2 linked regions of the Homo sapiens genome follow. The protein of the gene in region 1 purifies or fractionates together with the protein of each later gene. This does not show direct contact. Each region holds a gene or a part of one and is shown on either strand. Other genes may lie near its edges.

Evidence for each region.
Region 2: the proteins of TOX (region 1) and KLHL6 purify together in Homo sapiens (affinity purification with western blotting; one study listed by BioGRID). This does not show direct contact.

The regions. Positions count from the first base shown.
Region 1 is NC_000008.11:58,818,368-58,822,196, reverse strand, and holds part of TOX (thymocyte selection-associated high mobility group box protein TOX), read left to right. Parts: intron 1-3,829. UniProt on the Homo sapiens protein: Transcriptional regulator with a major role in neural stem cell commitment and corticogenesis as well as in lymphoid cell development and lymphoid tissue organogenesis.
Region 2 is NC_000003.12:183,507,178-183,511,006, reverse strand, and holds part of KLHL6 (kelch-like protein 6), read left to right. Parts: intron 1-2,498; coding exon 2,499-2,948; intron 2,949-3,829. UniProt on the Homo sapiens protein: Involved in B-lymphocyte antigen receptor signaling and germinal center formation.

The sequences.
Region 1 (3,829 bases):
CAGAATAAGAAAATAGGTTCCATTTCAAATTAGATTAATTTAATCTGAACAGGGGACATTGCTAAACTCTTGAATTGTTAAACAACTTCTTTCCATAGAGAAACTTAAAAGCAGAAGCAAATGTTATAAATAAGGATTGGAGGCCTCTAAGGCAACTTCAACCTCTGCACTTTCATATGGAATCACAGGAAGCCTGTTCTAGGACATCTAAAAAGTGCCACCTCTATCATACTGGGAGAGTCCTCAGACTGAGGAGTCTGTAGTCTCTGGGGCGGGTGGATCTGGATTCGAATCCCAGGTTTCCCACTTCCTAACTGCATATCTTCATGCAGTTCCTTGTATGTTCTAAGTCTCCATTTACTCAAATGTTAAACAGAGAAGATAATAGGACCTACATCTTAGGGTTTCCATGAGGATAAAATAAGCAAATCTATACAAATTACATGGTTCACTTGAGGACATTATGCTAAATTAAATAAGTCAGTCACAGAAAGACATGTACTGCATGATTCCACTTATAGGAGGTATCTAGAATAGTCAATTTCATAGACTCAAAGAGTGGCACGGTGGTTGCCAGGGCTGGGAGAGGGGGAAATAGGGAGTCAATAATCAACAGGCAGAAAGCATTCCTCAAACCAGATGAATTAGCTCTGGAGATCTGCTGTACAACATTGGACCTAGAGTCAACAATACTGGATTGTACACTTGAAAATTTGTGAAGATGGTAGATCTCATGTTAAGTGTTCTTATCACAATACAATTAAAATTTTTAAAATTCAAAAATTTAAAAAATAAACAGCATGACTCAGCATCCTGAACATAGGAAGCACTTAATAAATATAAGCTATGAGTATTATTATTAATTTTATTTTTAGTATTAGTAGGTATAGAAAGGAGGGGGGAAAGATTTGCATATCATTGAAAATTTAGCTGGATGATATTTTCAATTTGTCTTTATATCAAAGGCTACTTTGATATAAGGAAATTTTAAAAGTGACATTAAAAAGGAAAATTTTGCATCATAGATGCATTTCTTTATAAAGATATGATCTAGATATAAACAAAAATGCATTCATCTATAGTTTTCTTAATTGAAATGATCTTTATGAACCCTGCAAAGAGGTCCAAGGATATATGCTATTATGGAGGCTTGGCCTTCCCATCTTAAGCAATTTTACACGCTATTGAAGGTCATATGGGGTTGGACTGTCAAATAAAGCTTAAGGAAATATAGTTTTTCCATAGACTCGGGAATTCCTAGACATGGATCTAAATTATTATGCTGAAAACAATGTATAACTATAGAGCAATGGAACTAGTTTCATTTTACCACATAGACCAGAATTTATATTCCCAAAATGAGTGTTGCATTCAAAGTAGTCACCTTGGGAGGCTGCAAACTCATTTTATTATTGCTCCCAGAGTTCAAAAAATTTTTGAAACTCCTCTTTTAGAACTGTAGTCAGGAAAAGTTTATGAGCCACATTAGAAAATCAATCTTGTTACATTGTTTTCACACCTCATTCTTTTCCCCAAACATCACCCAGATATAACCCGCAGACTTGGCTTCAAGTGACTATTAGCTGTTTCCAAAAATCAAATTCACCATCAAAAGACAAAGAGTTGTCTGAGGATATGTAAAACAGTGTCTCACAGGCTCTGAAGAGAATTCCAGTAGGGAAGCTCCCAAATATCCCAAATAAAGGCAGCATTATTGAAATAAGTGTACAACTTCTCAGGATTGCCAACCTGGAAGGATATGGCATTTGGATAACTATGTTCTGGTTTATTAAATAAAGGCAATCAGATTCATGATTTTAAGGTCATAACATCAAATATAAGATTTTGTTTCTACCTTAAGGAATAGTTCATGAAGTGCTAAAATTTATAAAGGACAAATGGAAACCTTTTTTTTTTTTAACGTACAGAACAGGACAATATTGAATTAAGTCAAGAAAGTTCTCTGTTTCCATAGTCAGTAGTAAAGAAGCACAATGCTTAGTTCAATTAAAGGAAAGTGGATTTGAAAAAAACAGTTTCTTTTTATAGAATGAGGCAAACTTACAGATACCATGCCATGGTGAGCTATGGAGACAAATATTGAGTCTGAATTTGCAAATGGGATGGATCATTGTATGACTGTTAACGTAAAATTTGCAGCTCTGTAAACCCAGATCGTGATTTAAAGATAATAAAATCTCATGCTTCAGGGTATAAGTTAATCACCTGCATGGAGCAGAAAGAATTTTCCTTCCAGAAGGAGCAATGCACAATTGAGTAGGTGCATAAATTTTGTTTAATTTTCAATGCATTAAGTATCGGTCAGTGCTGAAAACAAGAATCAAATTAGATGGACTATTAATTTGATTTGGTTCAGCAACTCTTATATTGTTCCTTCCACTGATTTTTATGCATTGTATTTATACTTTGCTATTTTAAATAACAATAGCTTTGTCAATCTTTCATTTTTATAGCACATATCATCCCAGAATGGGGAAATTTATACACTATGCAGTATTATCTTCATTATACAAAGTAAATGGGATTGAAGCTACCTTCAGTAATCAACAATTTGGTTAGTAAAAGGTATCTTCAGGCTTATAGAGTTGTATCCTTTATACATTTTGCATATGTCAAAGGAACTCCCTACAGATAATACTCAAAATGTCTCTATGGCCACGACCCCCACTTTATGGCTTGTAGAAAATATCTTCCAGAATCTGTCGTCTAAATGCAAATAGGAAAGAGAACATACTCAGAAACTAACAGCAAGAACACATTCCTTCTGTGAAAGTGTGGGATTCAAAGGTTGATTTTCAGTTGTCTACAAGCTAGGAAACACATTTGTCAGGTGACCAACATGACACTCATTGCTAAATAAAAGTGGTTAATGTGTTTAAAAGTGGAAACAAATGCAAATTACTTAGTATGTATGAGAAAATAGTTCTAATTTCTGAATGATAGGTATAGAAGTCTTCATATGCAATATAATTGATCAGCAAAATTGTAGCCTTGCTTTCACAGTTAAATTGGGAAAAAATGACAGTAAGAGTACATTATGATTTCTATGTATTTTCATTTAATCACATTATGAATTTATGGCAGTTTGCCACTGAAAATGAACTTATTCTACCTATCTTCCAGAACAATAAAATAACTCTGTAATTAATAGATGGTCTATTGTACTAGACTGCTTAATAATTAATGAAAAGCGAAGCCAGAAGCAGGTTTTTCCTCATCTAAATGAGTGGACCATTACATAAACATACAAATTCCCAAAGTATGGGTGAGACTGAACTAGCTGCCCTGCTACTGCCATTCCCCCAAGACCAGTGAGGCATAAAGGGCAGTGTATCTAACCAAAGGACAGAGCGGAAAGCTGTAATTTCTCATCACTTCAGGAAGGGTTTGGGTCCTGCCGAGAGCAGAGAAGAGCATGAGGAAGGTCAATCTAATACTCTGTGGCTTTTCCAAGCCTTCAGATCCTTCCTCACTCCATGGGAAGAGGAACGGTGTGTCTGGTCAAGAGGGCAAGTCAGCAAGGGCAATGGTGGCTGCCTGGAGGATTGCTCAAGAATAGTCATTCACTCCTTAGAAAACATAATTGTGTTTTTATGTATTTTGCACTATGGTAGATGCGTGGGCTACAGAAATTCAAGTCCCTACCATCAAAAAAAGATGCCCTTTTGGAGGAATCAGGACATCTTTGTGAAAAGAGACTACAGGAAAATAACTTATATTGGAGCACCTGCCACGTTCAGGCACAAGGCTGGATACGTTATTTCTGTTGTCACAGTCAATGATTAGAAAATAAAGGGAAAATATATAT
Region 2 (3,829 bases), on another chromosome or scaffold:
CCTCTGTGTCTTATTTCTTTTCTCAGTCTCTCGTCCCACCTGACGAGAAATACCCACAGGTGTAGAGGGGCTGGCCCCCTTCAGCATTGACCCTCGGAGAAATGCTTTATTTATTTATTTATTTATTTATTTTGAGATGGAGTTTTGCTCTTGTTGCCCGGGCTAGAGTGCAATGACACGATATCAGCTAACCGCAACCTCCGCCTCCCAGGTTCAAGCATTCTCCTGCTGCAGCCTCCTGAGTAGCTGGGATTACAGGCATGTGCCACCACGCCTGACTAATTTTGTATTTTTAGTAGAGACGGGGTATCTCCATGTTGGTCAGGCTGGTCTCCAACTCCTGATCTCAGGTGATCTGCATGCCTCGGCCTCCCAAAGTGCTGGGATTACAGGCGTGAGCCACCGCGCCCGGCCTAAAAAATGCTTTTTAAACTGACAATCCTATGTGATCTGACACAGAAAGATAATATTTTGCAATAGAGGTTGATCCAAAAAGTCAGGGATGTGTTCCCTGGAATGCTCTGGAGTAAAGTCCAGAGCCTAGGTCACCTTGGTCCACTCTTAGAACCAGTCCTGCCCCACTATCAACCTTCAGGCTCGATAGCCCCACTCCCCACAGCTCCTGCCAACCCTCCCCAGTCAGGTCTGTCCTGTCCCTACTCTCACCAGGACCTGCCTTCAGAAGGCCTCCCCCACCCCCACCAGGTCTTGCCCCCTCAGCCTCCCCTTTCCTCTCCCCCCATTAATCGATCAACCCATGGGCACCAAGAACTTGACCCTATAAGGAGTCCAGTAGACGGGGAAGGGAGCTAGGAGGTTGAAATTGTTCAAAGCTAAGCTCCAGAGAACAACAAATAAGAATGAACCAATGCATTTGAGACATGTCATCTGTAAAATGGATATTACAAAATATAATGGATATAACAGTGCTTTGTCATCTGTAAAGTGCCCTACAAGCACAAGGGACTTGAATTTTTATGAGGATGGTGATAACTTAAAAGTGGGACCTGAGAGCCAATCAATAATTTTACAAATTGATTTTTTAATGACAAAAGCGGTACGTATTCATTTTAAAGGATATATAAATAAATAAAACATATAAATAAACAAAAACAGAAAAATTCTCATAGTCTTCTTAGAGTGTCATACCTTCTATTATTTATATAGTATATTCCCTGTCCATCCCATGAGACCTGTTTCTGTGGGAGAACTATGGTTCCCTTGATGACAAATTTTGCCATGTGACTTACTCTGGACGGTTTTGTGTAAATGGATATAGCATGCGCCCCCTCTGAGCAGAAGCTTTAAAAGCCTCTGTGTGGTTCTGCCATCTTTTTCCCCTTCTGTCATGGGACCAGCATGTCTCAGGTAAGGGCTTTCCATCTTCCTGGCCCCTGGAATGAAGAGCCCCGTGAAGAACACATAGTGGGTAAGAGGAACATTTATTGTAAGCCCCTGAGACGTGAGGGTTGTTTGCTGCTGCAGCAGAATTTGCCTTAAGATACCTGATAACCCAAAGAGATAACAACCATTAATATTTTGACCTACATCCTTTCATCTTCTTTCTATGACTTTATTCTGTGTATGTTTTCTTTATAAAAATAAGGTCACAATGTACATATGATTTGTGACGTGCTTTTCTCATTTTATCTGCAAATATTTCACTTATAGCTCTAAAAAATAAGGATTCTTCTTCAACATAAACATGAAACCATTATGGCACCTAAAATGAATCATAATTGTTTCATTAGCACCAAATATTAGTCATTGTAAACATTTCTCCAACTTTAAAAAATATATATTGTTTAAATCAGGAATCCAAATAAGATCCATACTTTGCAATTGGTCAATGTGTCTTAAATCTCTGTTTATCTTTAGGTTCTCCCTCTCCTTCTCTCTCTCTTTTATCCCCTTGTAATGTATTTGTTGAAGAAACTGAACAAGTTGTTCAGTAGAGTTTTCCACAATCTGGATTTTGCTGATCATGTTCCCATGACGTCTTTAGCAGGTTCCTCTTTCCCTGTATTTCCTGTAAATTGCTGAGTAAATGTAGAGGCTTAATCAGATCCAATGAACAGATTTTAAAACTCAATACATTATGAACATTTTCTATTTCATTTAATATTTTCTACAACATGTGTTTTAAGTATCTACAGAGCTATCGACTGTATGAATGAATTATATGTATTTAGCTAGTCCCGTAAGTGTCTCATTGTTTTAAGTCGACTGTATGAATGAATTATATGTATTTAGCTCCTCCCGTAAGTATCTCATTGTTTTGTCGACTGTATGAATGAATTATATGTATTTAGCTCGTCCAGTAAGTATCTCATTGTTTTAAGTCTACTGTATGAATGAATTATATGTATTTAGCTCATCCTGTACTGTTGGACATTTAGGTTGTTTCCAATTTTTGGCTAATACACATAACTCACTGATAAACCTCCTTGTGGACTCACCATTTTCTGGCCTCCTTTCCACCCTTTCTATTTCATCAGTTCCTGCGGATGGTGGATGCCTGTGCCAGCTTCCTCACTGAAGCCTTGAACCCAGAAAACTGCGTTGGAATACTGAGGCTGGCTGACACACACTCGCTGGACAGTCTAAAGAAGCAGGTTCAGAGTTACATCATTCAAAACTTTGTGCAGATTCTGAACTCTGAGGAGTTTCTTGACCTGCCCGTGGACACTCTGCACCACATCTTGAAGAGTGATGACCTTTACGTGACCGAGGAGGCTCAGGTGTTTGAGACCGTGATGAGCTGGGTCCGGCACAAGCCATCAGAACGACTCTGCTTACTCCCCTATGTCCTCGAGAACGTGCGCTTACCGCTTCTGGACCCGTGGTACTTTGTGGAGACGGTGGAAGCAGATCCTCTCATCAGGCAGTGCCCAGAGGTCTTCCCGCTGCTCCAGGAAGCCAGGATGTACCACCTTTCTGGCAATGAGGTGAGTAGAAGATAAGAGGTGCTATATTTAACCAGCGAAGTAAGGAGTTAGCTAGGGGCTCACAGAGATGCAAGCAAAGCGGATTCAAAAATCCTTAGGGCATTAAGGAGAAAACACTGCCCTGTTCATTGCTGAGTCGGTCAGTTCCAGAAGCCCTGATTCCTGATCTATGAGGCCGATCCCACGTGTTCAGACAGTTACTGAGCGCGTTAGGTGAGATGTAGAAATCACCCAGCACCATGCCTGGCCCGTGCTTCCTCTTCCCAGTTGTGGAAGGGTGGGAGGTTGGGGGTCACACTGCACGCACAAACAAGAATGTGCCCTGGGCCGGGCCTGGTGGCTCACACCTGTAATCCCAGCAGTTTGGGAGGCCCAGGGCGGGTGGATCACGAGGTCAAGAGATCCAGACCATCCTGGCCAACATGGTGAAACCCTGTCTCTACTTAAAAATACAAAAAAATTAGGTGGGCATGGTGGCATGCACCTGTAGTCTCAGCTACTCGGGAGGCTGAGGCAGGAAGATCACTTGAACCCGGGAGGCAGAGGTTGTAGTGAGCCGAGATCACGCCACTGCACTCCAGCCTGGGCAACAGAGGGAGACTCTGTCTCAAAAAGCAAAGCAAAACAAAACAAACAAAAAACAAAAAAAACAAGAACGTGCCCTGTCTAGTCACTATTCCATGGGGGTGCTGCTCTTCCTTGCCCACTCTGGTGAAATCTTGTGTCTCTTGTATATACTCTGACATCACTTTGATTTAGACTCTCACCATCTGAATTTCTGGAAATTTCTCAAAACTCATCTTCCTCCCCCAAGTCTGGCCTCCCTCCAATTTATTCACCAGCTGAAAGATCTGAAACTCAAGTCTGATCATCTTGCTCCT